7 linked regions of the Homo sapiens genome follow. The protein of the gene in region 2 interacts with the protein of the main gene of each other region in a pairwise test. Each region holds a gene or a part of one and is shown on either strand. Other genes may lie near its edges. The genes, in order: GNE, WWOX, C11orf87, PLEKHN1, ARRDC3, KIF1B and PAX9.

Region 1 (3,500 bases), on a different chromosome or scaffold from region 2:
CAAAAACTAGAAGTCTTTTTAGACCAGGGAAAAGTAAAACGCAAGACAATGAGCCAGAGCAACTCATCCCTGGCAAGAATACATTTCATACAAAGTTTGCACCTGCTTCTCCACCTGGCACTTCTGATATTATTACCAGTCTTTGTATCTATCCATAATTCAGCAGCCTCAGCCCTTTCATAAATCCTTTCCATAAAGGCATTTTGTTTTCTGTTGTAAAGTCCTATATTTACTGTGATATGCCTTTCATTATTAGGAATTTAACATGCCTTTTTAACATTGCTAATTTTAAAATTAAGATTGTTATATATTAACACTCTGGTTACAAAGCTGCAATGTTATATATGGCCTACCCAACCCTATCTTCCTGTAAGCAGAGTGATAGCATGAGAAGTTCCATATTAAGGCCAGGTGCGGTAGCTCATGCCTATAATCCCAGCAGTTTGGAGGGCTGAGGAGGGCGGATCACCTGAGGTCAGGAGTTCGAGACGAACTTGGCGAACATGATGAAGCCCCATCTCTACTAAAAATACAAAAATTAGCCAGGTGTGGTGGTGTGCGCCTGTAGTCCCAGCTACTCAGGAGGCTGAGGCAGGAGTATTGCTTAAACCTGGGAGGCAGAGGTTGCAGTGAGTCGAGACTGCGCTAATGCACTCCAGCCTAGGTGACAGAACTCCAGCCTTGGCAACAGAGCAAGACTCTGTCTCAAAAAAAAGAAAAAAAAAAAGAAGTTGCATATCAAGAAGCAGGAACAGGTTTTATATAAAATGTATTACTGCCCAGTGGTGGATGGCTCTGCCTCATTGTCTTGAGTTTTCTTTTTCACTGGTTTAAAGACCAAAAAAAAAAAAAGCAATTTTAGCTGTTCTGTTGTCCTTCTTTCCATAAAGAACTGCTTAAATTGTCCCAAATAGGACTTTAAGCCCTACAAGTACAATTCAATTTTGCTACATTCTGCTTTCTAATGGTTATTTGCTGTTTTTTGTTTTGAGACGGAGTCTCGCTCTGTTGCCAGATTGGAGTGCAGTGGCGCGATCTCGGCTCACTGCAGCCTCCGCCTCCTGGGTTTCATGCAATTCTTCTGCCTCAGCCTCCCAAGTACCTGGGACTACAGGTGTGCGCCACCATGCTCAGCTAATTTTTGTATTTTTAGTAGAGATGGGGTTTCACCATGTTGGCCAGGATGGTCTCAATCTCTTGACCTCATGATCTGCCCGCCGTGGCCTCCCAAAGTGCTGGGATTACAGGTGTGAGCCACCGCATCTGGCCTGGGTTTTATGCTTGTTTTTTTTTTTTTTTTTTTTTTTGAGATGGAGTCTCGCTTCTTCACCCAGGCTGGAGTGTGGAGTGCAGTGGTGCAATCTCGGCTCACAGCAACCTCCCTGGGTTCAAGCAATTCTCCTGCCTCAGCCTCCTGAGTAGCTGGGAGTACAGGCATGTGCCAGCACACCTGGCTAATTTTTGTATTTTTACTAGAAATGGGGTTTCACCATGTTGGCCAGGCTGGTCTCCAACTCCTGACCTCAAGTGATCCACCTGCCTGGGCCTCCCAAAGTGCTAGGGTCACAGGCATGAGCCACTGGCACCTGGCCAAAACTAGTGTTTTGTTTTTTTGAGACAGGGTCTTATTCTGTCACCGAGGCTGGAGTGCAGTGGCACAATCATGGCTCACTTCAGTCTTGAACTCCCAGACTCAAGCAATCCTCCCACTTCAGCCTCCGGAGTAGCTGGGACTACAGGCACACACCATCACACCCGGCTGATTTTTGTATTTTTTGTAAAGACAGAGTTTCACCACGTTGCCCAGGCTGTTCTCAAACCCCTAGGCTCAAGTGATCTGCCCACTTTGGCCTCTCAAAGTACAGAGATTACAGGCATGTGCCACCACATCTGGCACATTATTATTTTCTATTCATTACAAGTTTTTCAGTGATACAAGTTTTCCAGAATACCTAGAGAGCTAATGGTATAATTAGAACAGAATCCAAGAGTGTTTCATCGGAAGCATACTAAAAGGAGAGACTGAAGAGACAGAAGGTTGTTCCACCAGCATTATCTAGACGATCCCTTGATAATTACAAATCTGTCCAAGCATAAGAAATATTTAGAATGGGCCAGGTGCGGTGGCTCATGCCTATAAACCCAGCAGTTTGGGAGGCCGAGGCAGGAGGATTGCTTGAGCCTAGGAATTCATGACTAGCCTGGGCAAAATAGTGAGACCCCATCTCTACAAAAAAATTTTAAAAATTAGCTGGGCATGGTGGTACATGCCTGTAGTCCCAGCTACTCAGGAGGCTGAGGTGGTAGGATCACTTGAGCCCAGGAGGACAAGACTGCACCACTGCACTCCAGACTGAACAACAGAAATATGTAGAATGGAGTACGTTATATAGCAGGAAAGCCCAATTCCTTTCCTGATGTAATGTAATCTAGATTAAAAATATACAAAATCTCTTTGCTTATTCAATTTTCTTTTTCTTTCTGTGTTTTTTTTTTGTTATTGTTTTTTGTTTTTTTTTGTTTTGTTTTGTTTGAGACAGGGTCTTACTCTGTCACCCAGGCTAGAGTGCAGCAGTGTAATCACAGATCACTGTAGCCTCAACTACTCAGGCTCAAGTGACCCTCCCATCCCAGCCTCCCAGGTAACTAGGACTACATGCACACAGCACCACGCCCAGCTAATTTTCTTATTTTTTGTAGAGACAGCGTCTTGCTATGTTGCCCAGGCTGGCCTTGTAACTCCTAGGCTCAAGCAATACTCCCACTTCAGCCTCCCAAAGTGCTGGGATTACAGGGTGAGCCACCATACCTGACCCAACCAAATCAATTTTCTGTTCATTAATTTTATAATTCAATAGATCTGCCTCTTAGAAATGAAAGGTCCTAAATAGATTATTAGTCCTAATTTGTCCCCTAGGTAGTACTCTTACTATAAATTAACCAACTGACATTCTGTTTGTAAACTTGGATTTTTTTACCTCTGATTAGCAAAAGATAATTTCTAGGAAGCTAGAGCACTGAACAATAAAAATTTTGGAACATAGGGCTTATTTACAAAGATATACTCTAAGGCTACAACTATGACTTTTGCTTTTTAATAATCATCATAATCCCTTATATTAATAAGTACTTATGGCTTACTGCTTCCAACATTCATAATCTGAGTATTCCAACAATTCTATAAGAAAAGCATTAAAAATAAAAATGAGCCAGGCGCGGTGGCTCATGCCTGTAATCTCAGCACTTTGGGAGGCCGAGGTGGGCGGATTATGAGGTCAGGAGTTTGAGACCAGCCTGACCAACATAGTGAAACCCCGTCTCTACTAAAAATACAAAAAAAAATTAGCCAGGTGTGGTGGTGTGCGCCTGTAACCCCAGCTACTCAGGAGGCTGAGGCAGGAGAATCGCTTGAACCCGGGAAGTGGAGGTTGCAGTGAGCCGAGACTGAGCCACTGCACTACAGGCTAGGCAACAGAGTAAGACTCCATCTCAAAAAAAAA
Region 2 (3,500 bases):
TGGGGATCCAGCCATTGTTTTAAATATTACGCCATCAGTTTTGACTTCAATGACAATTATATAAAATTTACTCCAATGCAGAAGTTCAGACAAGTGGATTGAACATATTTGGAGCCCAGGATGAGGTATGAGAGTTGATTTGAAATAAAATCCTTTCAATTCTTAAAAAAAAATTTCCATTTGCTTCTTTACCTTCATAGGCAAGTACAGTAAAAAAATTCTCCACTCGGATGGCAACCTGGTAGATTTCACACCTTGTACAACACAATAATTGACCCTTGAACAATGTATTTTTACCTCCTGTGCCTCCCTAATCATGCTAGAAAATATTTCTGCAGCTTCAAGGAATTGTTCAAAATTAAGAAAGAAGTGCAGATGGTTAATGGGTACAAAAAAGATAGAAAGAAAGAATAAGACCTACTATTTGATAGCACAACAAGTTGATTATAGTTAATAATAACTTAATTGCACATTGTAAAATATCTAAAAGGGTATAACTGAATTGTTTATCACTCAAAGGATAAATTCTTGAGGGGATGGATACCCCATTCTCCATGATGTGACTATTTCACATTGCATCCCTGTATCAAAACATCTCATGAACCCCATAAATATAGACACCTTTATATACCCACAAAAAATAAAAATAAAAACAAAATTAGGAAAGAGAAACAAATGAGTAGAGGAGGGCATCAAGGGGGCCGTGTGAGGGCTGCGGGGGACCAAAAGGACAGAGAGAACTTGACAGAAGACAGCCAAATGCAACGTTTCATATGTCGACAAATCTGAAGATGCATATCTAAACTCAAAGCAGGTGGTTCTCACTGATTCAGATACTTATGTAAATAGATCAAAGCAAAATCAGAATAAAATCCTATGAAGAGTTATGGTTTGCTCCCGCCTTGCTCCTGTCTCCTTAATGGCCCATCATATTGAAGCAAGGATACCCTCTTGAGCCATCTACCCATGATAGTCCCTGTGGGTAAACATTGGCAATTAAGAGGTGAAGACAGGAACTCATTCTCCAATTTTATAGAGAAATAAGATCCTGTGCCCAAAAGAAAATGATATGCTCAGTGACCAGTCGAAACCTGTAGTATCCTTTGTTCCAAAGACATAATACCTTGTTGTTCCCCGTATTCTATTACCAATCAATTTTGGTTTGAATAACCCAGGTAATTGGAATATGCCCATACACCATGCAGACCAGGTCAAAAACTCTTAGACGGAGCCTGTTGTCTCTCATCCCTGAATACCAAAATAGCCACAGTCTTTTGCTGAGTGTTCAGCTTTCAGAGACTTCAAGGTCAGCCCCTACACAGGCTTCCATGACAACATTAGGATTTAAAAAGAGGTAGTGATGTTAATGAAACGATATCTGAAAAGGATAAAAGTCATGTTTAAATCAGAGAACCACTAAACAAAATTCCATTATAGCTAGATCTAAGTGGATCTCATTATAGCAGTCCCAAAGATAAATAACTAAGTGAAGAGCCTACCTATTCCTGAATTAGCTCCAGTGACCACAACCACTTTGCCAGTGAAATCCCGGCCCTGGAGAATTTCCATGGCAGTGGTGCTGCCGTCGTATCTTTGCCGGGTGGTTGGCTTGGTCGGATTATCATCCACAGTAAACGCCAGTCTTGGGTCCAAGTAGGTGGTTCTTTTATTTATATGGCTGCCCAAAAGAGAAAGCAGTGAACCCACAGCAATGAACACAGGCATTTATAAATATAAGACAATCTTATACTTTAGGAAAACCCCATTTTTCATAGACCAAAATGCTTATTCCTTAAACCTGAAAGAACTGGGGCCCACTGAATCTATCTTCTGGCCTCCAGAAGGATCACATTTGTGCCAAAAAAAGATAGTCATCGAATCCTTTCCTTCAGAACTGCCTATAACATACGCTGTAACATACAATAACTATTGCCATGTATCCTTAGATCTCAAAAAAGGCTTCTTGAGAAGGTTTTGGGCTTTTATGTAATTCATGTAAATGTAGCTATAAGATCTGTCAGCCACTCTTTTCAGTAGATTTCAATTAAATCTCTTAGCCCTGTGCAAGGGCCTAAAGACGTAGAGAAGTAGAAAACTCAAAATGATAAAGTCTTAGTTGTAAATAAGAAACCTGCCAACTACCAAAATTCTAACGATTTTCATTTTAAGACTCTGCACTCATACCTCCTACGAGCACTCATTTTGATTTGGAATTGATCTAAATCTTGTAGAAATGGTATTAAAATATACTGGAGGCTGGGCACAGTGGCTCACGCCTGTAATCTCGGCAATTTGGGAGGCCAAGGCAAGAGGACCACTTGAGCCCAGGAGTTCAAGACCAGCCTGGGCAACATAGTTAGACCTCATCTCTACAAACACTAAACAAAATTTCAAGTGTGATAGCACACGCCTGTAGTCGCAGCTACTTGGGAGGCTGAGGTAGGAGGATGATCACGTGAGCCTAAGAGATCAAAGCTGCAGTGAGCCATGATTGTGCCACTGCACTCTAGCCTGGGTGACAGACCAAGACCCTGGGTAACCATTAAAAAAAAAAAAAAAAAAAAGGCACATATGGATGAAAAGAGTACTCCTTATAATAGAATTTACTTTTTATATCTTAAATGTATTCTTGGGATATGAGATAAAGACCTCAGAATATCTTAAAAACTATTAAGAAGCCTCTAAATATAGATGAAATTTCATATTTTAAAAGTATGTGTGTGTAAAATTAGTTTAAAATATATACTCATCTCCCTATAAGTACCAAGACTCAAGAGTAATAATCCAACCTTTATTCTAATTATTACCATCCTCATCCTCATTCTATTTATAACAACCTTAATTTGTGACCCCAATATTATACACACACAACAGAGCAGTTCTATGCTAGACTGGCTCAAACTGGCTTACAAGAGCCAAACGTGACTATCTCTTCCCAATTCCTCACTTCACCTTGGCAGCATGAAATCAGCTATGGCCAAAGTATTTATACTGTGGAAACAAACAGTGGCTTTTTTCCCCCTGAAGACCTGGTGCTAAACATTTACCAGCACCCCACTGCAACAGGCTCAGAAAAGTGAGAACTAGCCAGGGGAGCCAATTTCCAGGTTCCCCCCAAAGCCCTTGCTTACTCCTCTAGATTAGACCAGGAGCTGGCCAAATCTGGCCCACTGCCTGTTTCTGTAAATAAAGTTTTATTGGAACACAACAACGCCCATCACTTGTATATTGTGTATAGCTGCTTTAGCACTACAAAGGCAGAGTTGAATCATTGCAACAGAAACCATATGCCCTGCAAATCCTAAAACATATTATCTAGCCCTTTACAGGCAAAGGAGACAGCCCCTGCTCTAGACGGGAGGCTCTCAAGCTAGGGAACATCAGGATCCCCTGGATGACTATTAGAGCGCAGATTGCAAGCCCCACCCCAGTGCTGATTCAGTAGGTCTGGGGTGGGGGCCTGGGAATGTACATTTTTATTGAATTCCCAGGTGATATTA
Region 3 (3,958 bases), on a different chromosome or scaffold from region 2:
TTAAAGATTTTAACGTACTTATGCTCGGCCAGCGAGGGTCATTTTAAAAAGTAAATTAAATGCTCTGTCCTGGAAAATGTAATGGTTAACCAAAGGGTGAGAAATGGGCGGACTGGCGAGGGGTACCTGTCATAAACACTTTCCGGGGACTATTCTCTATGGCCTCTTGCAGTCCTGGTGCTTAATGTAGACATTTTCTTTATAATATACTATTGCCTGAGCCCGGCTGAGGGTGGGAATGGGGAGGAAAGGGAAGCTAAAGGAAAAGTGAAAGCTTAGGGGTCAGAGGGGAAGGAAGGAAACTAAATCTTAACTTGACAGCTATGTACATTACCGGGCCCCCTCCCCTCCCTTTGCTCCGGGAATCAATGCCTTTTATATATTTGGTAGCTTGTGCGGTTTCTCCTCCTAATTGAGGGGAGCGCGGGGTGGAATGGGAAGATGCATCCTCCATTGACAGTTAGAAATTATGTGATTTGTCATGCGCTTGGATTGTGTTATTAGTATTATAATAATTACTATAAATATTAATAAAGTATTATTATCAGCGTTATTTCTTCTTCCGAGACTTTCCTCGCCCAATATTTACAAATACCGCACAGTGCCTCGGCGGAGGAGAAACAAGAGTAAGGGGAGGGCAGGTAAGGAAACCAGGAAGAGGAAAGAGGGGCCAGAGGAAAATGGAAAAGGAAGGAAGAAGGAAAAAAGCAAGGGTGGCAAAGATGCTGGAAACGAGGACGGGGAACGAGAGGGGCTAGACGATCAGGACAGTACCACCGTTTGCAAAAGGCCCTCGCCAGCTGTGTCCAAACAGGAGGAAGCTGCGTGTGCTCCTTGGGGACTGGAGGCTGGCGGTGGAGGCGGAGGAGCACAGGGACCCTGGCACGGGAGGCCAGGGGACGAAGAGGACAACGACGAGGCGTTGGAAGGGGCGCAGAAGGGAGAGTCCCGGGGCTGCCTCTCCAGCCGGGTTTCCTTTGCGTGGGTTGGGGCCTGCCTGCCAGGTCGGGGCAGCCCCCCGCCACCGCGGCTGCCGCTGCAGTGATCCCGCTCATATTCCTCCTGAGCCCTCTGCATCTTCCGCTTCTTCATCCTACGCTTGTGGATGTGGAAAGTGGAGAGGGACAGCACGATGAGGCAGAAGATGAGGGTAACCAGGACAATCAGCACCAGCGTGGAGGAGAAGGACTGGAAGAGCTGCTGTCCCACCTGCGTGATGCAGGTGCCGCTGCCTACTGCGCCTGGGCCGCGGGCACCCGTGTTGCCGCTGCCGCTGGCGTTGGGGGAAGCAAAGGTCCGGTTGAGGAGACACGGCGGCAACGCCAGCCTCAGCTCCTTCGGCGCCCTGGCACTCATTGGCGCGGGGCTGGGAGGGGCCAGGCCCACTAGGCTTCCCCTCTTGGGCACACCGTTCCTACCAGCCAAGAAGAGGACGGAGCCCACGCCACCCAAAACTGCTCCCTGTAGCGGGAGGGGGTGTGCGAGCGAGCCAAGGACTAAGGGAGCAACTGCTGGCAAGCAAGGCGACCAAGGAGTGAGCGGCGCCCGAGAGATCCTCGCCGATACCACCTCGAACACGTCTCCACGCTCCCCTTTCCTTTGCAGAGGCACCAGGCTGCAAAGACACAAAGCTTAGTTAGAATCTCGGCCGCTGCCCAGGGGAGTGCTGTCGGGAAAGATCAACCACCACCGCAAAGCGGCCCTCTGGGCACACTGCCTGAGCTGGGCGCTGCCTGTATTTTCGGTCAGCGGACCCCAGCCTGCCGGCCCGTGGCCGTGCACCAGAGCCACCAGCAGCCTGCTCATGCCACTCGACAGGATGGGGTCTGCGCCGGCACCGCGGAGGTGCAGATTACTCAGCAGATAAGGCAGCCTCCCTTCCGCCCTTCACAACTTTATAATTGCAACAGACACGCAGCCGCTTTGGTTGAAGTCCCTACTTCCCAGAGCGCCGGCTCTCCTCTTTTCTGCGCCCTCTCGGTTGATGTCTTCGCCTGGATCCTACCCTTCCCAGCACCCACTCCGGGCCGCCGCGCGGGCTCCGGGTACGCAGTCCTCCCTTCCTTTCCCTCCCCGTCCAGACTCGCCCTCCCTGGACAGCGTCAGATCCCTTGGGTCCCATTCCCAGGGGGATACCCCTGGCACCACATCCCACTCTGCCTCTGTCCGCGACCGCGGCTGACGCGCAGGAACGCGCTCCATCTCTTCTCCAGCCTTCTTCCCTGGTATTCTCCCCTCTCCAAAAAAAAAAAAAAAAAAAAAAAAAAGCAGCTGAAGCATCTTTCTCAGCTGACACATTCCCACAAACGGCCCCCTCCTCCCCATTTCCCTGTGCCCCCAACTTGGCAGTAGCCTGCTTCTTTCTAGAGGAGCTGGAATGGAAAGGGGAGGGTTCCCGCCTGCAAAGTTTGGGGAACGGGACCTTCTTTCTGTCCTTCCCAGACCCAGCCCAAAGGCCCCGAGGCTTTTCCGGCATACTGGAGCCGGTAGACCCGCAGCGCACAGGAGAGCCTCCTTGCTGCTCCCAAGAGGCAGCTGCAAACTGTTGCACTGCGGAGTAGCGAGGTAGCGCGCAAGCAAGCCAGGGCAGGGGCCGGGGGCAGGGGCGGGGGCTGGAGCTATGGCCAGGGGTGGCTGCTCAGGCCGCGTGAGCTGTCCTCCCCACTCGCACCTGGCCGTCAGGCCACCCGGCCATCAGAAGCCTTTACTCACACCTTGTCTCTTACCTGGACCGCCGGCTGGCTGCAAGGAGGGAGCCCCCGCCGCGCGGCTGCAGTGGCGGCTGCAGAAAGCGTGGAGTGAATGGACCAGAGACCGAGCCGCGCTGCTGCCGCCGCCGCCGCCGCCGCCGCCGCCTTCGCCGCCGCTTCAGGGAGCTGAGCTCGCAGCCTATTGCCAGAGAGGCCGGTGACGTCAGGCAGCCACCGCCAGGGCTCCAAGCCACCCCTCAGGCCCCCACCCACCCTAGTACCCCAACACCTTGTCCTAGCATAGCGAGCCTCTGACACACACTTCCCAGTTCCCTGCCCTTCTCCAGCCCAGGAACTAGGAGGAGCAACCCCTACCTCCACCCTGCAAGCAACCCACCTTTCTCACTCTCTTGCCTAGGAAGAGTTGAATCTTCAGTTCTCCAGCTGTCTGATTTCGTTCTAGAGCTGACCCTTTGGTCCCAGAATCACATTTTTACACTCTGGATAGCCATCTACCATCGGTGCACACATCACCGGTGGTGATGAAAATTTCCCCCACCGCTAATTCCTCTCTGTGCTGCCCGTTTCTGAACATAAACTGCGTGCATTAGAGAGATGGCAGGGACGTTTCTCAACATAAGTGTGACAGAACCCAAAACACAAACCTGAACAAATTAAACAATCCAAATTAGCCATTTTTCTCCACTGGAGTTTCCAAGTTATCTTTCGCTCCATCTGATTCAAGATCCTCCTTCTTGCATCCCTCACATCTTCATCTCCAGGCCCCAGACCCACTCAATGTATTAAACACTCCTTCTATTCTGACAATCTAGACACTCATGAGCACACAAACCCTAGTCTTACAAGGAAGAAATATGAAATTATTCACAGGAAGGCAGAAATGAACTGCCTTATGAAAATTCCAAGTATTTGTAGCTTGCACAAAGTACCCCTTCATTGACCCTAATTCTTGGTAAAGTGTTTGGAGCACAACTTTTAGCAAAATACATAGAACTTCCAGAAAAGAATTCAACAGCCTCCCTAAATCTTGGAAGAGACTAGTTAACTATTGGTTTAGGAGCCTTGGAAAAATATGAATAGTGCATTTGGTTACAGAATCCAGCTTTGAAATGGAGTATGCTCATTTTTCTGTTGGAGAAGCTAGCTGGGAACAGTACCTAAAGACATTGCATGGTCTTTGAAGGCACTCAGGTGTCTTACTAAACGTGCGTTTTCTTCTTTGCTCCCTGTCTTCTTTTCTATCTTTG
Region 4 (4,226 bases), on a different chromosome or scaffold from region 2:
AGATGGTGAGATCTGGACTCAGTGGATTAAACCCATCTTCATTCTTTCCTAAGCTGTGTAACATGGCTTGGGTTATTCAACCTCTGAAGACTTGTTAGAAGAATTTGGGGGTGTCTGGGTAACACTCAAAACCCTCCCACGTCTGCAGTATTGTATGGTAAATGCTTAACACCTGGTTCTACAAAAAACAGACACAGAAACACACCGATGCCCTGATTTGTAACGTTTGCCAATCTCCTCGGTGTCAGTGTCCTCACCGTTGCCCATTTCCAGCCCCCAGCCTGAAATATGTGAGGAGATTTCTGGGGTCGATCCTCTGTGTGTTGGCCGCTCCGTATGCCTCACTCAGGGGACAACGGGGTCCTGGCAGTGCCCCGAGGGGTCTCCCCCGAGGGGTCTCTGTGGCTGCCCCGGCCTCACTGTCTCCTCACATCAGACCCATGCTCTCTGGCTGCTGCATGTTCTGTTCCTGCTTTGGGGACCGCTCAGTCCTGACCCCCCTCCTTACCCGCTTTGCAGCTTTGCTCAGACATTACCTGCTCCAAGAATTCCTTTTCTGAAAGCCTTTCTAAAATTCCAGCCTTCCCTGATCCTCTGCACTCATCCCCTCTGTTTTTCTCCTTAGCACCGACCTGACCCCGCTCACTGGATCTATTGATTTGTCCCGTCGTGTGTCTCTGCCGTGGGAATGGGAGCACTAGCAGAACAGGGGTTGTCTATTCCGTTCACTGCTGTGTCCCCAGAGCCTAAGACAGGGCCTGGGATGTGCTGTGGGTATCACTGCATGTGCTGAGAGGGGAGGGGACTCCACATCCACGCCACATGTAGTCAATCCTGGCACACACAGTCCTCTACAAATGCAGGCTTTGATCACCAGGTTGGAAGTCAGAAAAGGGACGGGTGTGAACCTGGGGCTGGAGACCTCTGTGATCCACAGGCTCAGGGCCAAGTGGGAAGGTGTCCTCCTCCTTCTAGGAGCTGGCGAGAGCTACCTGCAGAGCTGCTGTGCCCTGGCCAAGCTTAGCTGCCCCTGAGCAGGCCCAGGAATGTGAACAGACAGACGCATGGCTTTCCCGGCCTTCTGCCTCTGGGTGGGGCCTCCTGTACCCACACCCAGCGTGGGAACTGATGCCGGGTTGGCACCCATGAAAAATAGGCCACAGACCAGGAAGGGCCACACAGCTGGCCCTGCAGCGCAGCTCAGCCTCGGGGCCCCGGGGAGGACTCAGCTTGGAGCCGTAGTAGAGCCAGCTCACAGCACTGGGTGCAGAGCCCAGGTACAGGGCCGCGGAGCACTGGCTCTAGGACTGGCCCAGAGCTCCTCCCCCAGCCCCATTTCCCGAGGTTCAGCAGGTTGTTGCCTCTGTGGCTACCATGTCCTGGCAAGGGAGGACCACTACGGCCACCCACCACACCTCATAGGACCCCCCAGGGTCACACTGCATGTCCTGGGCCTGGACAGAGGGAGTGGTGTCTGAGATGCAGCCACAGGGACCCCACCCCTAACCCAGCCCGGCTCCCTCTCCCTGCCCACTCCTCTGAGGCAGCGTGGTTTCCGAAACCAGTACTTGTCTGCAGGGAGCCCTGAAACTCTGGAGGTCAGGAGAGGGTATGGCACGAGCTTCCTGCCTGGCGGGGGCATGTTGGCAAAGGGGTCTGCACGGCCATGCCAGCTGCTGGACCCAGGAGTGCAGGGCAGGCGTCCTCTCCCGCAGATGCTCCTAGGGCCTGCACATAGCGGAGCCCACCCATCCAGGCTGCCTGACGGGGGTGCAGTGGGGGTTCCTGTCTGCCCTGAAGCCCAGGTTCCTGGTCCTGTTCCCTCATCCCAGCACCAGACACATCTGAAAGGGGCTGGGATCTACCCTGTGAAGACCCTTAGTCCCACAGGGGCTGGGGGGGGGGTGGGCATGGGGGTGGTCTTCTGCTCCTTTGACGGAGAGGTGGCCTAGTGTGTGCTTGGGAGACACCTCCTTGCTGCATGGCCTTGGCAAGCTGGGAGGAGGCCGGCGCGTGCACAGAGGGATTGCTGTGGACCAGGCGGCCATACCCAGCGGCAACTTCCTGCGGGACACCCAGGGAGAAAGGCCGGTGTAGGTGACCGGCTGGCTCGCTGCTCATCTGAGGCCCCTTACTCTCAAGTGACACTACCTGCCGGCACGACCCCAAGCCCCACTGCAGCGACAGAGACACGTGCGCTGGTCCCCTGCGGGAGGAGGTCCCGGGAGGCCCCGCCCGCGGCCCGCCCCGCCCAGCTCTCTCCCGACTGACTCAGTCCTGCGTCGCGGTTTCGCTCTCCGCTCAGACTTTCGGCCGGATGAGCTCCCCAGGGCGGGGCAGTCAGCGTCGGCTCCTCACCTACCGGGGTCTGAACGCCCCGGGGGCGAGGGGAAGACCCTGAGCTGCACGGACACACGGCACACACGCGCGGGCAGAGCCACGCTCCCAGACCACAGCCACCGTGCACGCCGCGCTCACCGTGCCCGGGATGTAGTGGAAGAGCTTGTTGGCGGCGGCGTCCCCGCTTCGAGCAGCCTCGGGGCCCGGCAGGCCGGCCGACATCCGCGCGCTGTCCTCTCTGGGGACAAGGCAAGGGGTCTCGTGGCTTGGCCCCGGAGCGGGTGGGGGAGCCCTGCGCCCAGGTGGCCGCACCCACGCCCCGCTCACCTGTTTCCCTTCAGCGAGGGCTTTCTGGAGAAGGAGGCCCGGAGCCTCCTGGGGGCCTGAGGGACACAGTGGCTGTTCCCCATGGCCAGAGTCGTACAGGTCGGCAAGTCTGGGTCCCTGTCCACAGCCTCCTGCCCCCGCCTCCCGCGGGCAGGCGGGGCTCCGGGACGTCCCGCCCGGCACCAGGGCCTGGGCGAGGGTGGAGCCTTTCTGGAAGAGGCCTGGCCCCTACCTGAGCCGTGCAGGTCTCTGCCCTGGGCCCTCCACTCGAGAGGCCAGCCTTGGGGCAAGCACCCCTCTGGCCCAGACGAGGCCTCCAGTGTGCAGAGGTACCCCACCTGCTTGTGCTCCGGCTTGGTGAACCCGGGGCGACCTTCCAGGCCCCCCGGGACAACGTGCCCACACATCCTGTTTCCATCTAAACTCTGGCCGGCCCGAGTCACCGGTGACTGCAGGGAGGGCTGAGGCAGGAGTTCCAGCACAGGAGACGGCGGCCAAAGCCACCGCAGCCTCCCCTCCTGCCTGGGCCCCCTCGCCACAGACCCGAGTCAGGGTCCCCAAGGCTTAAGGGGACTCAGGGAGGCCACATGCCCCCTAGACGGCCAAGACAGTCAGCGCACTCGGGGGCAAGGCTGTCCTCCCCAGCCCTAACCCCAGAGCCCACGATGTGGCGGGGACCTCGGCCTCAGTACCCAGCCCAGGCAAACGCCACCCACACTGGGACGCTGGTCCACAGGAACTGCACGGCCCCCACCCTCCCTGGACGCACAGCTCTGCCTTGCAGCTCCCAGATGCCTGCGCATCTCAGGGCACCCCCCCACACCCCTCACCCTGGACCCCAGACAGGACCCAAAGTTGCGCAGCTGCCCCACATGCCAGAGAGAGATGCTCAGCCTGAGGAACCCCAGAAATGTGTTTATTAAGTTGGACTCGTATTGCTGTGTGGGGTCCCAGTGCACGCGTGTGCACCCACTACAAGATCCAGGAAAGATGGCACACGGCAGACGACGACAGGAAGGACAACTGCTCCCCACCCTTCCCGGGACCCCGCCATGTGCAAAATTCGAGCTGGGGTCTGCAGCTGCTTGGAGAGACCCAGGGCCTCTTGCTCCACAGCCTGCAAGGTCTGAGCAGGCAACGGCCCTGGGGCGGTGAGGCCCCCGCCTGGTCACTCCCCGCGCCCCCCATGCAGGCAGTGGAGGGGAGGACACGCAGGAGGACCAGACGCTAAAGGTGTAAACGGGCAGCCGTGGCACTCCTCACCCCTCAATAAATAAGATAAATAACTAAATAAATAAACAACTAAATAAAGACATGAAGGAATGGATGCAGAGACGTGAACGGATGGCGCAGGACGTCCCTGGTGGGGGCCACGGTCCCCTTAAGGCATGTGGGAGGCTGCAGGCCTCTGGTGGTAGGTGGGTCAGAGGCTGGTGGAGGACACGGACAGCGTCGGGGAGGATGGCGGCGGGAAATTGAGCAGCTCCAGCACCGCCACACCCACACTGCTGCGCCGGGTGAACATGCAGGATGCGGCCACCCACTTGTTGGTCCTCGGG
Region 5 (3,500 bases), on a different chromosome or scaffold from region 2:
AATTACACAGTAGGTCAGAATAGAAGTGTTAATATATTGTATTGTTTATGTTCCAATGAGGTATCAAACATATAATTTAAAAAATTTCCAAAGGGATAAGTCACTGGGGAAAAAACTTCCTATTTCCAACTAAGAATAAACAATAAATATCTTTAAAATTTTGCTTTAAAAAGCCAGAAGAATACAATCCATTTAAACTAAGAGGAGGCTACTTTTAATGATGGTGGCAAAATCATGAAAGTTTAATGGGCATTTTTTGAAAAGGCCAAGAATTCAAACACAAAGTTGAGAATGGTTTAACTATTTCTACTGATAAATTCTAGACACTGGTTAAACATTCAGACCAAATTCCCTATAGTACTCCACTTCTCATTAGCCGGGAATTATCATCTTTTAATAGCAACTAACTAAGGTCTAGAAAAGGCCTGGAATAGTCATTATAGTTTCAAAAATTTCACATTTCCTAAGTTTACTGAAAAACTACTTTTGTATCTCTCAGTTTACTCATGTTCTAATTCTTGTTTGGCTGTTCTCTAACTTTACGGGCTTCAAAAGAAAAAGATATAGTCCTCTTGATCTATGTCAAGAGAATAAAAAAAAATTTTTTTTAACTCTGTCAGATTTTACTTGTGGAAGGTTTTATTTTAGCAAGTTCAGTATCTTTTTCATAATTTCATTAGTAAAATACTCAATGTTCAGTTATTTACAAGAGTGCTAGCTTAGATTAGCATAAGAAACACTGGTGTTTTCATAATTTTTTTTTTTTTTTGCATTTTAGACTCCCACATTAACTTGTATAGCAGAGAAATAAAATCTTAAACTGTATGCTAATAGTTATCCAAAATTTATGTTAAATGACTTTGGTTTATGGATAGAACTTTAACATTAAATGACGCTGAAAATACTCAGGCCCCATATTGGCCTTATTCTATCAACAGACTTTAATATTTTTCTCAGAAATTAGATGAGGGCATTATATTCCAAATAAAATTCTCAAATAATACAGTAAATAGAATTTTCTAAAAAATACCATTTATGACTTCTCTCTCTATATATAACATCTCAAGCACTAGAATTAACAAATGCAGAATTAATGTACATTTGTCACCTGACAAAATCTTATGTAATCTGTTTATTCTCCAGAATAATCACCACAAGTGCCATTTTGCAGGTTTTAATATTTGTTAAAAGGCATTTTTTTTTAAAAAGTTTGTATCATCTCTTCCAACAATCTGTCATTACTTTAAGAATATACCACTTTCCTTTTTCCTTTCTTACTAGATTCCAAGTTTTATATTAATGTATCCTTGATGCATGTTTCCTTTTAAGCCTGGGTCATATCTCTTGTGTGACCTTCCCAATAGTTCTTTGTACAGAAGCTATTAAGTTCATATCAGAAGAAAAACATTTCTAAAGTTAGGATATTCCTAATTATTTTTATTTTCGAAACTTACTGCTATTGGTTAGTATTAGCAGAAAAAGTAGAATATAGAATTTTTTATAAATTGAAGCTACTAAGACTTGATAGGGTCTATCTTTTCTCATAATGATAATTGATAATAAACTAAGTATAAAGTGGTTATTATTCGACTAGCAACTTCCAATTCACTCATGTTAAAGGAAACCCTATTCCTATTTTAAAAACCTCATAAACTTTAGGAAAGAATACTGAAAATTGAGTATGCTTTCTATAATTTTGCCACGCTAGATTAAAAAATAGCTTCTTATGTTTAATATATTGTTTTCCTCTAGCAAGTTTCAGTAATGAAAAGGGTTTTTTTTTCAACTAAAAATGTTTAAATTTAGAATACTTAATTTTAAAATAATGCTCTGATCATAAGTATCTATAAAAATGCCTATTATTTATAATACTTACGTCTGTGGAAGCTCGAAGCTGAATGCATATTCATGCCTTCCTGAATGAATAGTGTGGAAGCCTTCTTCGGAATTATCATCATCTAAAACAAACATAAAAAGAAAACAAAGAATTTATTATTCAACATTTACATACTCCGCAGGGTGGCATAACTTTAAAGATGCTTACATAACAATTAAGACCACAAAACAAGCTTTGGAGTCTGAGAGATCTGAGTTCTAATTCTAACTTCATCATTTCCTCTGGACAAAATAAAAATCCTGTCGTCAGCTGCCTTATCTGTAAAATGGGGATAATGAATACTCACACCCCACAGGCTTTTTATTTTTTCTAATGGAAAATGACCCAAACTGCAAAGCATCTGTTTATAAAATAGTATATATACTCAAAAGGCTCGGGTCTCACATCATGGTAAGACAATGCTATCCTTTGTCTCCAACGGTTTGCTTAAATTTATCACATTAAGACTATAATGTATCAAAGAAAAACTGTTCATGCAACCCTCTTAAAATATGTCAGTTTATAGGGAATAATAATACCAGATGTGAATAGAATAGATACTCCAAAACCACTAGAAAACCTTGTCAAATAGACGGAGTAAAAAAAAAAAAAAAAAAAGCCACACATTGATTTTAATGTCAGATTTATAACTAAAAATAATTATTTATTGAACTAAAAATAATTATTTATTGATCTAAAATGATCACAACACTCAGTTGGTCCTAGCAACGACTAAAACTTGCATAAACTATACCTTAGATAATTACAAAGAACCGCATTTAGGTGGTGTCGGCTTATAAGGAAACAATATTTTCCAACATCCTTGAAAAAAATGAAGTCTAACTATTAATAGTTTCCAGTTTCTATAAAAAAGGGATGACCTTTCATTTTACAACCAATTTTTTTGGTGAAATTATTTTTTTTCAAGTGGCATGAAAATAAATATAATCGAAAATATGGGAGGGGGTTCTAGATCATTAAAGTGCCTATTTAGCGTTTTAAATAATTACAGAAATATCTTTTAAAGTTTTCTTGGTGTAGAAACCTTTACGATTAGCCCCCAGAGTAGAAAAAACTGGCACATTATTTAACTTTCCTTCAGCAAAGTATTGGATATACACAAAAAACGTGATGCCTCCCTGATATTAAACGAGAAAAAGGGGGAAAAAAGCATGTATACGTCGATACTTTCATTTAAAAATCATGGTGATTCGCTTATGTCTCCATACAATTTTCCTCGTCCCCTGTGCAAATTCCCCTGAACGGATTTCAGAACCAAAAACTAGCTGATGAGCTGGGGGCCATTTAAATTCGCTCCCCTCGAAGGCGCCCGAAGTTCGCCTTCCTTTCCCTTTCTTCCCTCTTCGCTCCCTTTTTGTGCCAGCTCAGCAGTCTCATTGAAGCGAGCGGCGGCGGCCGCGCCGTGGTAAACAAGTGCCGGGCTGTCAATCAAGAACTAGACCGGAGCAGGAGAGGACCGGCCTAAACCGGCGCGAGCAGATCCCAGCCGGCCTGCCCGCGCGCCGCCGCCGCCGCCGCTGCCGCCCGCGCGCCCCGCTATACATACGGCATACGTCGCGCGGCGCTCGCGCCCGTGCCCGCGCAACCTAGCCTGCTGGCCGGG
Region 6 (3,500 bases), on a different chromosome or scaffold from region 2:
AGCATCAATGAAAACAACTGCTGGATTCAGAGGGAGACTTCCAGGTTTATGCCTGAAAGCTATATTTCTTTGATCAAAGGGAGCTGTAACAATCACAAGGTCACTACCCAGCATTATTATTTTTTTTTTTTTCTGAGGCAGAGTCTTGCTCTGTCACCCAGGCTGGAGTGCAATAGCGCGATCTTGGCTCACTGCAACCTCTGCCTCCTGGGTTCAAGCAGTTCTCCTGCCTCAGGCTCCCAAGCAGCTGGAATTACAGGCATGTGCCACCATACCCGACTAATTTTGTATTTTTAGTAGAGACGGGGTTTCATCATATTGGCCAGGCTGGTCTTGAACTCCTGATCTCGTGATCTGCCCGCCTCGGCCTCCCCAAGTGCTTGGATTACAGGCGTGAGCCACTGTGCCCGGCCTGCCCGGCATTATCTTAATCATAACAATGACCATCAAGTTTATCACCAGAAAGTGAAACACTCCCGCCTTGTGGAACATTTGTGTATGACATGGCACTAATTCCAACTGTACCACCACCATCACTAATGCCAAAAGCAGAACTGAGACACTCCTAGAAAAGAGCTTCCCTCCCAACAGAGAAAAAACAGTGGGCAGGAATCCTGCTGTGAGGAGCTACAAGCATCCCACCGCCTGCTGCCATCACGGCCCACGGCCAAACCCTGGGGTCCCCTGAAGTCCACCAGAAGCATCCTTGGCATTTCCCTTCACACAAAGTCAAGAGCAGCCACTGTCCCAGGCCCACTGAAAAAGCCTCTCGTCTCCTCTCTACCAGTAAATAAAAATTCCATAATTATGCCGTAAAAAGCCCCAACTTTGACTCAGAATATAACTGTTGCAGTTCTATGCTCACTACCACCTTTTCCCTGAATGGAAATGCAGGGATTAGCCATGGCAAAAAGAGACAGAGGGGAAAAAAAGACTCTTTTTTTCCTCTCAGGTTCTAAAAAGGCCAGATGTCTCCTCCCTTAGTCTCTAAGCCACCCAAGAAAAATTAAAGTGATATCACAAACAGAGAAAAGAAAAAAAAAGTATGTTGTCTTGAAAAACAAAGGTGCCTGGTGACAGCAGCACAGACATCAGAGGTGGTCATGATGGGGACCTATCATACAAAAGGAAGCCAAAGTACACCCACAATAATTTGGAGATTCACCAGATCCCCTCAGAGTTTTTGTGTTTTTGTCTGTGTATGTGTGTGTGTGTGTGTGTGTGTGTGTGTGTGTTTAAAAACATTTTTTCCTTTTGTTAGGCCACATGCTACTAACGAGATTCTCAGCACAAGAAAAAAGAAAAGAGTACAGAGCAATGGAGATGGGGAACGGGAGAGCTAGAAAAGTGCTGGACAAGGAGGGAGAAGTAGTTAAGCCACAGGATTACATACAAGAGTCACCGTCAAGAATCACAAAGAGAAATGAGAGGTAACGCTTTCTTTATCTCTCGAAGGCGAGTGAGGGCACTCGGCAGAGTCACTTAGTATTTCGACTGGCTCGGGCATCTGCGGGAAAGCTTTGACCTATGGGGGACAAACGGGGAGGTAGGATTAGAAGTCTGGGTACAAGTCTTGTCCCCTCACAGTCCTCTCCCTCTGAGGCTCCCTCCTGGAGCATCTTCCTATTTGGCACCGCAGGCCTAGTCCTCTAAGCCGTCTACTCCGGGACCCTGTGACACAAGCCCTCAGAACGTGAGGCTGAATCACAGGGCTGGAGGTTGGGAGACCATTAAGGTTCTCACTGTCCTCCCTTTACTCTCTCCCCTGAGCCCCATCTTTAGAACTCTTGAGAACAAAAAGACAAAGAAGGAAAATAATTGGTGCACATGTGTGACCAGAGTATCCCTGGTGGTTCAGAACATGACAATGCCTTACAAGATGCAGAGGCCTCATTACCACCCCACAACCAATTTACACTCCTGTCCTTCCTCTCTTTTAAATTTATTTTGAAAAATACTTCCTTTCAAGCCAGATGTGGTGGCTCACGCTTGTAATCCCAGCACTTTGGGAGGCCGAGGAGGGTGGATCACCTGAGGTCAGGAGTTCAAGACCAGCCTGGCCAACATGGTGAAACCCCATCTCTACTAAAAATACAAAAAAAAAAATTAGCTGGGTGTGGTGGCGGGCACCTGTAATCCTAGCTACTCAGGAGACTGAGGCAGGAGAATGGCTTGAACCTGGGAGGTGGAGGTTGCGGTGAGCCGATATCATGCCACTGCACTCCAGCCTGGGCCACACAAGAGCAAAAACTCCATCTCAAAAAAAAAAAAAAAAAAAAAAAACAAGAAAAGAAAAAAGAAAAGAAAAATTCTTCCTTTCCTATTTATCCTGATATTCCTGAAGCCAAAAGCCAAAGAGAGAAAGAAAACACAGAACAACTTCTAGGCTGGGTGCAGTGGCTCAGGCCTGTAATCCCAGCACTTTGGGAGGCTGAGGTGGGTGGATTACTTGAGGTCAGGAGTTTGAGACCAGCCTGGCCATTGTGGTAAAACCCCGTCTCTACAAAAAATACGAAAATTAGCCAGGCAATGGTGGCACGTGCCTGTAGTCTCAGCTACTGGGGAGGCTGAGTCAGGAGAATCGCTTGAACCAGGGGGCGGAGGTTGCAGTGAGCCAAGACCAAGCCACTGCACTTCAGGGAGAAAAAGTGAGACTCCGTCTCAAAAACAACAACAACAACAACAAAACTTCTTACCGTATTGTGCCAGCTAGAAGTGGGTTGAAGGCATACAACCAGTCGTTCATGTCTTTGTCATTGAGGGCCTGCAAAAGGACCCCACGGTGCTTTGTGCAGACAGCAAAGGTGTTTGGTGTCTGAAAGAAAAATGCAGGTAGACAAGAAAGTTACTACAGAGACAGCAATGGGGACTGCCTTGCCATATTCCCAAGGCATATAGCACTTCACAAAGGAAGTTCAAAACCAGAGAGAATAGGGAAATTTCACACCACGTAACAGAGAGTGCAGAAATCAAAAGAGAAGGGCACACGTGGCAATAAGAAACCAAGGCAGGGCAGGACGGACCTTCACCATGGCCTGCTGGTCCTCACTGTACTCCACCTGTGCTGTGGACAGGTTAATGATTCCACGCTCCACAGGGTCTTTGTCACTGTTATAGATGAAGACATAAGGCCGACGGACGACAACAAAATGTTTAGCCCAGTTACTGTAAAGAGGCTCCTTGAAATGAAGGTATCCTTTCTTAGAGACCACTGAGCTAAAAACGACAATATGACAAAAGTTAGTTTCTCACAAAAAGAAAATAATCGTGCTGAGGACCATCAAAATACGCCACACTTAGGCCAAGTCCTTAGATTCGATGAAACAGGCAAATGACCTATTTGGCCTAGAATCTTATCTGCCAAAGTAATACGGCAAAAGCGAAACCGTGCCATGGCAACATGCTGCGCCAGGGTGCAGATGCATTATGAGACCCAACTGGAGAAACCCAGGCTGGCCCTCTCACCCCAGACTCAACTTGCATCAGACTACAGTACAGAT
Region 7 (3,500 bases), on a different chromosome or scaffold from region 2:
CAGTGTGATGAAGTTGGTCTTTTCCTAAAAGTATTAAAACAAAGCAGTAACTTACTTTTTCTAGGGTATGCAATTTAGTCTATTTTGCTTTGTATTAGTAAATCTCCTTCTCAAATTTAGGTAGAAGATAGTTTGCTATAGAGAGCACCCTTGCACAGTTCTTTCAGGGGAAAGAATTCTCATGCCTTTCATGGAAGATCCACATGAGAAAGGAGTTGATGGATTGAAGTCTTATTTATGGAATCTTTAGGTAAAGTCATTTTCAAAAATGAGATTTCCATTACATGCCCATTGCTGGGGTTTCATTTGGAAAATTTGTTTACTCTTCCCTGGGGATTCCGTATGTTGGTTGATTTATAAATCATATTTACAATCCAATTAAATAGAGTAATTTAGCATGTTTGCTCCCACTATATTTATAGTGTAGATTTGGTAGTCTCTACTCAGCCTAACTAGCTTTTCAGATTAATTACATGCCCTTCACTGAAAACATTAAACCGATTTGGGACGTTTAAGTCATGTACTCTTTTACTGGAAAGAATAAACAAACATCAATGCTACCTGTAGTTGTTTTCCTTTGCGGTGGAAAATTTTACTTTTTCAGTGATTGCTTCATAAATAACAATTACTTGACCCAGTAGAGATTTATATCTTTTACTAATGTTATGTGTCAAAATTAATAGTGAGAAAATTGATGTGTTTATTGAGTCACTAAAATGAATAAATAATGAAGGTGGCAGGAGGCAGGTAAATTTTAAAGCACATTTACTTGCTCCTTTTTTTTCTAAATTTATAAATCTGAGCTTCAAAAGTAAAAAGTAAAATTAAGACAAAACTCTCCAGACCCCCAAGCTAGGGTCATAATTTAACCTGAGAGAAAACTAAGGGCTATTTTTATACTGTTTAAGTTTAAAGATTTATGTTTGTTTTTTTTTTTAAGCAAACGTTTTAGCCTCTCCTTGCCTTTTTCTTTTTTCTTTCTTTCTTTCTTCCTTTTTTTTTTTTTTTTTTTTTTTTTTTTTTGAGATGAAGTCTCACTCTTGTTGCCCAGGCTGGAGTGCAATGATGCGATCTCGGCTCACTGCAACTTCCGACTCCCGGGTTCAAGCAATTTTCCTGCCTCAGACTCCCAAGTAGCTGGGATTACAGGCACCTGCCACCACACCCGGCTAATTTTTGCGTTTTTAGTAGAGACGGGGTTTCACTATGTTGGCCAGGCTGGTCTTGAACTCCTGACCTCAGGCAATCCGCCCGCCTCAGCCTGCCAAAGTGCTGGGATTACAGGCGTGAGCCACCGTGCCCGGCCGCCTTTTTCTATGAGATGAAATCAACCATCTCCGAGCTTCTCTTCCTACCCTGTCTTTCTGCAGTACAAAGGGATTGCATCACTAAAATGATACTAAATAAATATTGTGGATTTAAGAGAACTTTGAAATATTTAGTACTAAGAATAATGACATAAAGCAAGTTTGTGCATTAAGTATGAGAAGTTGGACAAACATGGAAAAATTTGCTCATTTTTTTACACTTGATAAATGAATGTAATCATGGAATAAATAAGGCACTAGAAGTTAATACAGGCCTAAATCCAATGTCCTGCCTGCCCCTAAATTCCAGGAACATTATCTAAGATAAAAGTTCAATGCAGCATGTCTCTGAGGGCCATCTTCCAAGTGGGTCCATGTAAGGGGACCATAGACATTGCAACAAAACAACTGAAGAGTCCAAGTAAATGGGGCAGATCAATGAGCAAGAGTTCCAAGGGCAAAGGTGTAAGAAAAGGGAAGATGACTAAGCAAGGATTTCAGAGAGAACTGTAATTTTGAATGATAGATAAAATACAAAGAAAAAAGAATGGGTAGGAAAAATTTAGCTGTGATGAAAAATAGAACTCGCCAACAGTTCTGTTCTGCTAACTAGAACATTGTTTCTGCCATGTATAATATTAAATTTTTTAACTTTATGTCCCTATATGATGTTGGCCAAAGATTTTTATTATTTTAGAAGTAATTTTAATGTTAGCATTCTTATTTCATTATTCTTAGTTCACATTGGCATCAGTAGTATAAAACATTAGTCAATGCTGGAAATGAAAATATTAGTTAACACCACATACAGATGTGAACACCTTTCCATAACTGAATTGGATTTATTTCTTTCCAAACTCATTTATCATAGATTATTGGGACAATTCTAAATAAAAATGATTAAAACTATAATCTCTATGCAAAACTAGATTTTTTCCCCTGTAATTTGATAGTTCTCTATCTTGATACCCATCTCCTGAGAGCCTTAAAGTGTGTCTCCTTTGAGACATAATCAGCCATTCTCAAAAAGTGGAAGAAACTATTCTTTTTTTAGAAGGGATCTGACAATGAGAATCATGTTCTAGGAGAGAAAAGAATTTGTTACCAGATGTTATCTCAAAAGATGCACTAGTTTTAAATTAAATTGCATCTATCTTTTAAGTGTTCAGGAAAAACAGTATGATATGCTACAGAGGACCCTGCATTGGGCAGGGGTGATAAATTTTTTTAACACATGGCCACTGGCTTGCCAATTGGTTGAGGGTACATGGCTAAACCTCTTAATCTATATCCTTGTATAAAAAGAGGATAAGATTTCATTTGTATTCAACAGTTATGTGCGGTAGTTTCTTGATTTAAAAAATGCAGCAGCATCATTCTCTGGGACCCTTAAAATACACTTTAATTTCAGTTGAACATTGTGTTGTATTTGTGACACACTATCTTGTAATTATGATAAACTCAATCATTTATAATGAACTATATAATTCATTAATACTCATTACTCAGTAAAATATGTTGGATATTTCTTGGTGCCTGGGACATAGGACACACTTAAGAAACTTTAGCTTCCTTTCTCTTTCCCTATTTTCAAAGAACCAACATTGAAAAACACAACATGAGGTGTTTGTTCTTACAGAGCATAGACACAAGGCTAACCCCTCTAATATTTTTCTTTTTTTGTCAGAAATGCATGAGTAATGTTGTCATACCCACGTATGTATTCTATTCCATGTACATATTCATTTACTCTGCATTGAGAAAATAGTTTTTGAGACCGCACCACTGCATTCTCATAGATGTAGAAGTGAAAACAATAGCCCAAATAAATTAAATTAGAAAGTAATTCCTGTGTTGCAATTGAACGGGAAAAAGTACCTAGCTAACATACATCTGATTAACTTAATTCTAAGGATTAAATCAATTTTCCTCATAAAATTCTAGTATTTACATCGTATTTTCACTAGGAAATATATTGAAATGGTAGTTCATTCATGTAACTATCAGGACACAGCATCTACACTTTATTTCTAAAGAGTATAAAAATTGAGGGGAAAAAATTAGACTACTTGAAGAAGGATGCCCAGTGTTCATGCCAGAATCAGGATTAAAAATCAGGGTGTTTTTAGTGTTGTTAATAGTAACGATACCAACAATAATTCACTGGATGCCAAGACAGCACTGGTTTCTCGG

Evidence for each region.
Region 1: the proteins of WWOX (region 2) and GNE interact in binary tests that used the Homo sapiens proteins (3 or more experiments, as listed by UniProt).
Region 3: the proteins of WWOX (region 2) and C11orf87 interact in binary tests that used the Homo sapiens proteins (3 or more experiments, as listed by UniProt).
Region 4: the proteins of WWOX (region 2) and PLEKHN1 interact in binary tests that used the Homo sapiens proteins (3 or more experiments, as listed by UniProt).
Region 5: the proteins of WWOX (region 2) and ARRDC3 interact in binary tests that used the Homo sapiens proteins (3 or more experiments, as listed by UniProt).
Region 6: the proteins of WWOX (region 2) and KIF1B interact in binary tests that used the Homo sapiens proteins (3 or more experiments, as listed by UniProt).
Region 7: the proteins of WWOX (region 2) and PAX9 interact in binary tests that used the Homo sapiens proteins (3 or more experiments, as listed by UniProt).

Annotation. Positions count from the first base shown.
Region 1 is NC_000009.12:36,241,449-36,244,948, forward strand, and holds part of GNE (bifunctional UDP-N-acetylglucosamine 2-epimerase/N-acetylmannosamine kinase), read right to left. Parts: intron 1-3,500. UniProt on the Homo sapiens protein: Bifunctional enzyme that possesses both UDP-N-acetylglucosamine 2-epimerase and N-acetylmannosamine kinase activities, and serves as the initiator of the biosynthetic pathway leading to the production of N-acetylneuraminic acid (NeuAc), a critical precursor in the synthesis of sialic acids.
Region 2 is NC_000016.10:78,113,154-78,116,653, reverse strand, and holds part of WWOX (WW domain-containing oxidoreductase), read right to left. Parts: intron 1,679-3,500; coding exon 1,500-1,678; intron 1-1,499. UniProt on the Homo sapiens protein: Putative oxidoreductase. Acts as a tumor suppressor and plays a role in apoptosis. Required for normal bone development. May function synergistically with p53/TP53 to control genotoxic stress-induced cell death.
Region 3 is NC_000011.10:109,421,032-109,424,989, reverse strand, and holds the start of C11orf87 (uncharacterized protein C11orf87 precursor), read right to left. Parts: upstream 2,801-3,958; 5' UTR 2,727-2,800; intron 2,553-2,726; exon of another isoform or gene 2,423-2,552; intron 2,212-2,422; exon of another isoform or gene 2,123-2,211; coding exon of another isoform or gene 1,941-2,122; intron 1,616-1,940; coding exon of another isoform or gene 1,357-1,615; coding exon 763-1,356; 3' UTR 1-762.
Region 4 is NC_000001.11:965,056-969,281, reverse strand, and holds the start of PLEKHN1 (pleckstrin homology domain-containing family N member 1), read right to left. Parts: upstream 2,801-4,226; 5' UTR 2,751-2,800; coding exon 2,668-2,750; intron 2,579-2,667; coding exon 2,479-2,578; intron 1-2,478. Other genes in the region: KLHL17 (kelch-like protein 17), read right to left, coding at 4,091-4,226. UniProt on the Homo sapiens protein: Controls the stability of the leptin mRNA harboring an AU-rich element (ARE) in its 3' UTR, in cooperation with the RNA stabilizer ELAVL1.
Region 5 is NC_000005.10:91,376,818-91,380,317, forward strand, and holds part of ARRDC3 (arrestin domain-containing protein 3), read right to left. Parts: intron 3,281-3,500; exon of another isoform or gene 2,631-3,280; intron 1,959-2,630; coding exon 1,877-1,958; intron 1-1,876. UniProt on the Homo sapiens protein: Adapter protein that plays a role in regulating cell-surface expression of adrenergic receptors and probably also other G protein-coupled receptors.
Region 6 is NC_000001.11:10,374,570-10,378,069, reverse strand, and holds part of KIF1B (kinesin-like protein KIF1B), read right to left. Parts: intron 3,217-3,500; coding exon 3,024-3,216; intron 2,816-3,023; coding exon 2,697-2,815; intron 1,526-2,696; coding exon 1,483-1,525; 3' UTR 1-1,482. UniProt on the Homo sapiens protein: Has a plus-end-directed microtubule motor activity and functions as a motor for transport of vesicles and organelles along microtubules.
Region 7 is NC_000014.9:36,671,860-36,675,359, forward strand, and holds part of PAX9 (paired box protein Pax-9), read left to right. Parts: intron 1-3,500. UniProt on the Homo sapiens protein: Transcription factor required for normal development of thymus, parathyroid glands, ultimobranchial bodies, teeth, skeletal elements of skull and larynx as well as distal limbs.